Homo sapiens: one gene and its partner. The protein of the gene in region 2 purifies or fractionates together with the protein of the main gene of each other region. This does not show direct contact. Each region holds a gene or a part of one and is shown on either strand. Other genes may lie near its edges.

Region 1 (3,500 bases), about 27 Mb from region 2:
CTTATTCCAACCCATCTGATAGATTAAAAAACAAAAAAGCAAGACTCAAAGACTTTAAGTGATATTAAAGTCAGTTAACAACAGCATAGCTGAAATTAGGACCCGTCGCCTAACATCTCATATTGTATCCTACTCACAATAACATTTATCAACTTTCTGTAATTTCAGCAAATGCTACACTTTGTGCTAATAAAGTATGAATTGCGAATGTAACATCCCAATTTTTCTTATTCATATTGTTTTACTTCCAAAATTCCATTTTCTATTATCTTTATCGAACACATCCTATTTTTTGCCCACTATATTCGTTGCACATCAGTTAAGGTGGTGAACAGGAAGTATGAATGAAAGGCTTTGGTGAGGTGGTATATTAGTTTTTCCACAAACAAAAAGTGGTTTACAGAAAATTTCAAAAATTTACTTTGAAAAATAAGTCACACTGGTAAGTATGTACTTCTTCATGTAAATATGCATTTGTATTTAATAAGATTACAAAAATGCTAAATTATCACTTTAGGCTGAATAATCCATAGGGACCCAGAAGATCAGAATTACCTGTAAGTGTAGTTCTCTGTCCAACTGACTGATTCCTTGGGCAAGTTTTGCTAGTTGTTCAGCAATTACAGCTTGATGAATAGATTGAGAAGTATAAGTCTTTACATCAAAGTCTTCGTTTAAAAAGTCACTATAACACCCTGGATTGGGGAAAAAATAAGGAAAAGTCCTTAATTACCCTGTACTAAACCAGTTATTAAACAACAGAACAATTATAATCATAATTAACATATTTTGATCCCATACTCTGAACCACTCCACTATACTGCTTAATGCTTACTTTTATCATGACCCTAAAGGAAGTATAACATTGAGAAAGAGATTAAAAAACATAACGACTGGCCAGGCACACTGGCTCATGCCTGTAATCCCAGCACTTTGGGAGGCCGAGGTGGGTGGATCACCTGAGGTCAGGTGTTCAAGACCAGCCTGGCCAACATGGTGAAACCTCAAACCCCATCTCTACAAAAATACAAAAATTAGCTGGGCATCATGGCGGGTGCCTGTAATCCCAGCTACTCGGGAGGCTGAAGTGGAAGAATAGCTTGAACCCGGGAGGCACAGGCTGCAGTGAGCCGAGATCGTGCCATTGCAATCCAGCCTGGGTGACAGAGCAAGACTTTATCTCTGGCCGGGCGCGGTGGCTCACACCTGTAATCCCAGCACTTTGGGAGGCCGAGGCAGGTGGATCACGAGGTCAGGAGATCAAGACCATCCTGGCTAGCACAGTGAAACCCCGTCTCTACTAAAAATATAAAAAAAATTAGCCGGGCGTGGTGGTGGGCGCCTGTAGTCCCAGCTACTCGAGAGGCTGAGGCAGGAGAATGGCGTGAACCCGGGAGGCGGAGCTTGCAGTGAGCTGAGATTGCGCCATTGCACTCCAGCCTGGGCGACAGAGCAAGACTCTGTCCCAAAAAAAAAAAAAAAAGACTTCATCTCAAAAAAAAAAAAAAAAAAAAACCATAACTACTAGCTATAACTATTAATCCAAGAAAACAAGATCATTGTCAGTGAAAAGACAACAGGAAAATTGACTCTATATATATATATACACATATGTAATATTTATGGCCTCAGATATCTCTAGATCAATACACAAATACTGTTATAGCAAAGTGAATCTGGAATTTTAGTAACAATAGGAAATATAAATTTATAGGTGTTACTGAAATTTAGGATTTATGGGTGAAATATGTTAATGGAAAGAAAAGCTGTTTAAAATAGGCCCCTAATAGACAGAAAACAGAAGTAATACCAGATGTTAAAAAGATACCCCTCAATATAGAAATCCACAAATATGTGGATGAAAGAAAAATTAAGAGAATTGAAAGCTAAAAATAGATACCCAGAAGGGAGCTCATGGTAACCATGTACCAAATCTCCTAATGATACAGTAGATACAAGTAAAGCTGCCTTGAGAGAGATTATGAAACAAACAAAATAGAGTACTTTTAAGAAAACCTAAATTGTCTACATCTGCTATAATGTATGCTCCAAGAGGGGAAGAAGGTCTTTGTTTTGTTTGCTAACTCTTCTCCAGTGTCTGAACAATACCAGACACATGGCAGGTTCCATGAATTAACTAATCTATACATCAGCTGATGTATCATTAGTATCATTCTGGTAACAACCAACAACAAAAAGTAAAGGCTCATACTCTTGATTATTCTTAAAATGTAGTGGAATGAAAGAAGGAAACTGCTACTTTGGCTGCTTTTAAGTCTGAGAACCACATTTCCTTCTGATTTGCCAAGTGCTTCTCAGAATTAAGAGTCCTGTCAGCCAGACAAATGAAAAAAGCCATTCCAAGCAAAGGGAAGGTTTAGCAGTGGCAAATGCCATGGCATATTTTGAGAAACAAGGGGAATACTGATTTCAGTGTGTCTAAATCATAGCACATGTATATTGGACAGAAATGGTAAAGAATGACAGATGTGGTTCCAAAGGTTGGAGCGCAGTTTGAAAAGAGGTTTGTAAGACATTTGAAATGTTTAACCATATCTCATTTAACCCAAGAAATTGCACTATCAGCTTTATGTTACAGAACAATAATCCTGGCAGCTGTATAGAGGATGATGGAAAAAGGATTAGTCACACAGCAATGTGCTGAAGTTGCCTCTTATTGGCTCTTGAGCACAGACTGTTACATTTTCAGGAATTCTGTGAGCCAGTTGACCTTTCACACAGATATCTTAAAATCTACGATGGTGAGAGTATTTACACCATGGTAATCAGCAAACACTACAAAAATCAGGGCTTTTTCTATTTTCCCACAAAGCCAATTAACCAATACACCCAAGAAATAGAACCACAGAGGCCAGTAAAGTACTATGTTAACAGCCTAAGACATAATGAAGGCCCGACTAAGACCTGAATAAGTGGCACTAAGAATGTCAAAGTGACAAATTTGACAAATATTCACACTGCACAGGATGTAGGACTTAGTGACAAGCTGAAAATGGGTGATTAGGTAGAACAAACAAGGATTCCCAAATTTCTGGATTAAGCAACTGATACAGGAAATTTAGTTTTACACTAACTTAGACCACTAGACACTGAATATACCAAGATGAACATAAACTTCTGCCTCCAAGGAATTCATAATTTACAAGGGGAACAAGCACACATTTACCTAACAACATAGTAAACACAGATAACAGAAACTACCAGAGGAAAAGATTAGGAGAGAAGAACAGAAAAAGTGAATTCATTTCATTTTTTCATATGTAAACCTTGTACTATTTGTTCATATGTAGGTTTTCATGTGTATTATAGAACTAGCACTGCTTGTTTACTATCAAAATAGAAATGTCCATACAGGTTATGGAATGGCATATCATAAAAAAATTAAGATAGAAATGTCCAGTAGGCAGTTAAAAATATAGTTTTATAATTCAGAAGACAGGTAAGGAGCATACTGAAACCACAGACAAGACCAGATGATT
Region 2 (3,500 bases):
GCAGGGTCACTCCGATGACGGGAATTTCATATAACTCTGTAGAGGTTACAAGAGGATATAGCCATATTGCTTTTTCACAGCTGAATTTTTCATCTTTTGAACAGGGTAATACAGACTGAACATAATAGGAACAGCAACATTGTCTTCCTTGCAAATAGAATTGGATCACGCATCACTTTACTTGCCTTGACTCCAGGCTATAGCAGCCACTAAAGTCATTAAATTGGTTTCTTAAAACAAATAATAGTTTTAATTTTTAAGGAAGTGTTTTACCATTTGCCTGAATAGTACCTCACTTTACAAAGAAAGACTGTGAAGCACAGAAAAGTTGAAAATGATAAAATGATATAGACAGCCTTAACAACTCAACACAAGAGGAAAGGCGGCTAGCAACTACTGTTTGGAAGTATGTTCAATCACACTAGTAATTACAGAATTCCAAAGTAAATAAGACTGTACCATTTTATAGCTACAAAATTAGCAATTCAAAACTTATTAATTTATTTTTGAGACAGAGTCTCACTCTGTCATCCAGGCTGGAGTGCAGTGGCATGATCTCAGCTTACTGCAACCTCTGCCTCCCAGGTTCAAGTGGTTCTTGTGCCTCAGCCTCCCAAGTAGCTGGGACTACAGGCACACACCACCACACCTGGCTCATTTTTGTATTTTTAGTAGAGACGGGGTTTCGCCATGTTGGCCAGGCTGGTCTTGAACTCCTGACTTCAAGTGATTCGCCTGCCTTGGCCTCCCAAAATGCTGGGACTACAGGCTTGAGCCACTGCGCCTAGCCAATTCAAAATGTATAAATAATATCTTAATCTGGCAAGTTGGTAATGGAACTGGCAGCCACAGGTTGGTGGCAGTATAACTTGGCGTCATTCTTTAAAAAAATCAATTTCATAATCCTTATTAAGGGTCTATAAAAGTATTCCTACCCATCCTTCAGAATTAATCCTAGTTTAATTCAAAGGAAGAAAAAGGTTCTGCACTCATTAAAGTACTATACATAATAAAGAATAACTCTGAATCAAAATCAAATGCCCAATGATGGTGCAATGGCTACATAAACAAAGGCACTTTCATTAGAGGAGGCATTGTACATTTGATAAAAACAAAAATCATAGAGATTTTATAGCCACATAAAAAAAACTCAGAAAAAAAGTAAAAAACAAATATAAAATTATATCCACACAAGGATTACAGCTATGTAAGAATCTCTGTAAACAGACATGGTCTAGAAGAAAATCAATAAAAATAAAATTGGCAGATGTCCAGGTTGATGGAACTGTGAATAACTTTAAATATATTCTTACATTAGTTTTAGGCCAGGAGTAGTGGCTCACGCCTGTAATCCTAGCACTTTGGGAGGCCAAGGCAGGAGGATCCCTTGGGCCCAGGAGCTCGAGACCAATCTACCATTCTGGGCAACAGGGAGGTCCTGTCTCTATTAAAAGACACATACACACACACACTCTCACTCTTATGTTAGCTTTATATAATGACACTTGCACAGTAAATTTGTGGGAGGAAATAAGATGAAAGAGAATACAGACATAGAAATCCTCAATGGCTCAGTTTTTTTGTATTACTAAATTTTTTTCAGGTTTTGAATTATACAGCATAATTTAAGAAATTCTGATACAATGATGCTGAGATCTGGTAAGAAATATTAATTTTCTTTCACGAATAAAATGTCTCATATATACATACACACGCATACACATAAAGACTAATTTTTGAAACTTAGTTCTGGATCAGTGGGCAATGCCAATAATCTGGTATTCTATTATCTTTGATATCCTTAGCAAGTATTGAAATGAAAAGGAAGTTAACAAACGTGATTACTTTTTAATAACTTCAGAGATACACTGAATCTCTGAAGGAAAGAGACAATGAATATCACTTAAAATATTTTGACAGATATTTAGCTCTCTTGGAAAATTCACGGATCTCAGAAACTTAATCTCAAGGAAAGCAAGAGAAGGAAAATGTATCTTTAACTTGGAAATGATTCTGGAGAAGTTGAAGGCAGATTCTGTAAAACATTTTATCATAAATACCTAGCCCTGTGATTTTTAGAAGCAGCATTCTAACAACTAAATCAATCACATGGAATTTGACAACATTTTTATTTCAATAGCCCTTTGCTACGTGGGACTTCTCAGAGATCTTAAAAACTGTTGTGTTAATATGAAGAAATGATTATTTGAGTAATTCAGAGCCTTACAAACTCTTACACACTACCTTCACATTTTTTGGGGGATGGGGCAAATGGGAGAGGCAACACTATAAATGCAGAGAATAGTCATAACTTCACAACTCATGCTCAGATAGCAAACAAATGTTTACTGAGCACCTACTGTCATTCTACAAAATGCACTTAAGCATTTGAGGTGTGTGCAACATAAAGCCTTGATTTTAAAAACGTTTATTTGTTCCTTGTGTGTTCAATGTGTCTATATTATACTCTGTTAGTAGATAATCAGATCATACAAGTGATCCCTTTCAAGTTAACTGACAATCTATAGCTAATTTATTAACTGGCCAGTTTAAAAAGTAACAGCTAACTTACACTAGACGCTTGAAACTAATTTTGCTTATTCATCTGCTGCCTGTCTCATCTGTAACTAGGAGAAAAACCTTGTCATCATTGAGCTCCCCTCTTGCTCTGCTCCATGGCAGCTTGGGCTGGATCTGTGAGCAGCTCTGCCTTTCATGGCAGAGAAGGATAAACAGCAGTTGAGAGAGCTGGACGGCTGCCCAACTTCGCAGGGCTCCAGTCTCTGCAGTGTGCTGTAAGTATTCATTTGCATTCTCAAAACATCAAACATTTCACATTCAAATGCAAACACACAAATTCCAAAGCAAAATGGAAAACTCGAAGATATTCTTTTACTTCATTTGTAAATAATTGAGAAACCCCTGTAAAAGCTTTTGCTGCTGCAATGACTGGAAAGTGGAATGGAGACATTTTCGAAAGGAACACATGATTTGAATAGGATTATGAAAAAGGCCGAGGTCAAGTCAAGAGTAAAACTGAGACTCTGCCTCAGAAACTGTCAGGTAATTCTACTGTCTAACCCCAAACTCACCAGACTTATTGAATAGAACTGCATGGTCATAAATATCAGAAGCCAAGAAGACGAAACCCGGAAGTGGAAGGGCGTGCTATGGAAAGAAACAGGTCAGATAAATGTAAGTGCAAAAACATTATAGAATAATTAGAGTAGCTTTACAATGATTAAAAGTCGTACAGGTTGTTTGACAGCAATACAAAGAAAAGCAAGTTAGACTTAAGTTAAATGTATACAGTGCTTCTTGACCACTTCACCTTGTATGGCAGGATATTAACCCCCAAATTATGGTTCTTGCCCTTATAGGGTCTGAGGGCCATCACAGACAAAGCAAACAATGGAGCCAGCATCCTTTCCTCAACAACAGGGAATGGAGAAATTTAAACATATAGTCTTTCTGCACAAAAGGATTTGCTAAATATGCAG

Evidence for each region.
Region 1: the proteins of SLC35B4 (region 2) and COG5 purify together in Homo sapiens (affinity purification with mass spectrometry; one large-scale study listed by BioGRID and IntAct). This does not show direct contact.

What each region holds. Positions count from the first base shown.
Region 1 is NC_000007.14:107,557,421-107,560,920, forward strand, and holds part of COG5 (conserved oligomeric Golgi complex subunit 5), read right to left. Parts: intron 696-3,500; coding exon 556-695; intron 1-555.
Region 2 is NC_000007.14:134,296,431-134,299,930, forward strand, and holds part of SLC35B4 (nucleotide sugar transporter SLC35B4), read right to left. Parts: intron 3,169-3,500; coding exon 3,093-3,168; intron 37-3,092; coding exon 1-36. UniProt on the Homo sapiens protein: Antiporter that transports nucleotide sugars across the endoplasmic reticulum (ER) membrane in exchange for another nucleotide sugar.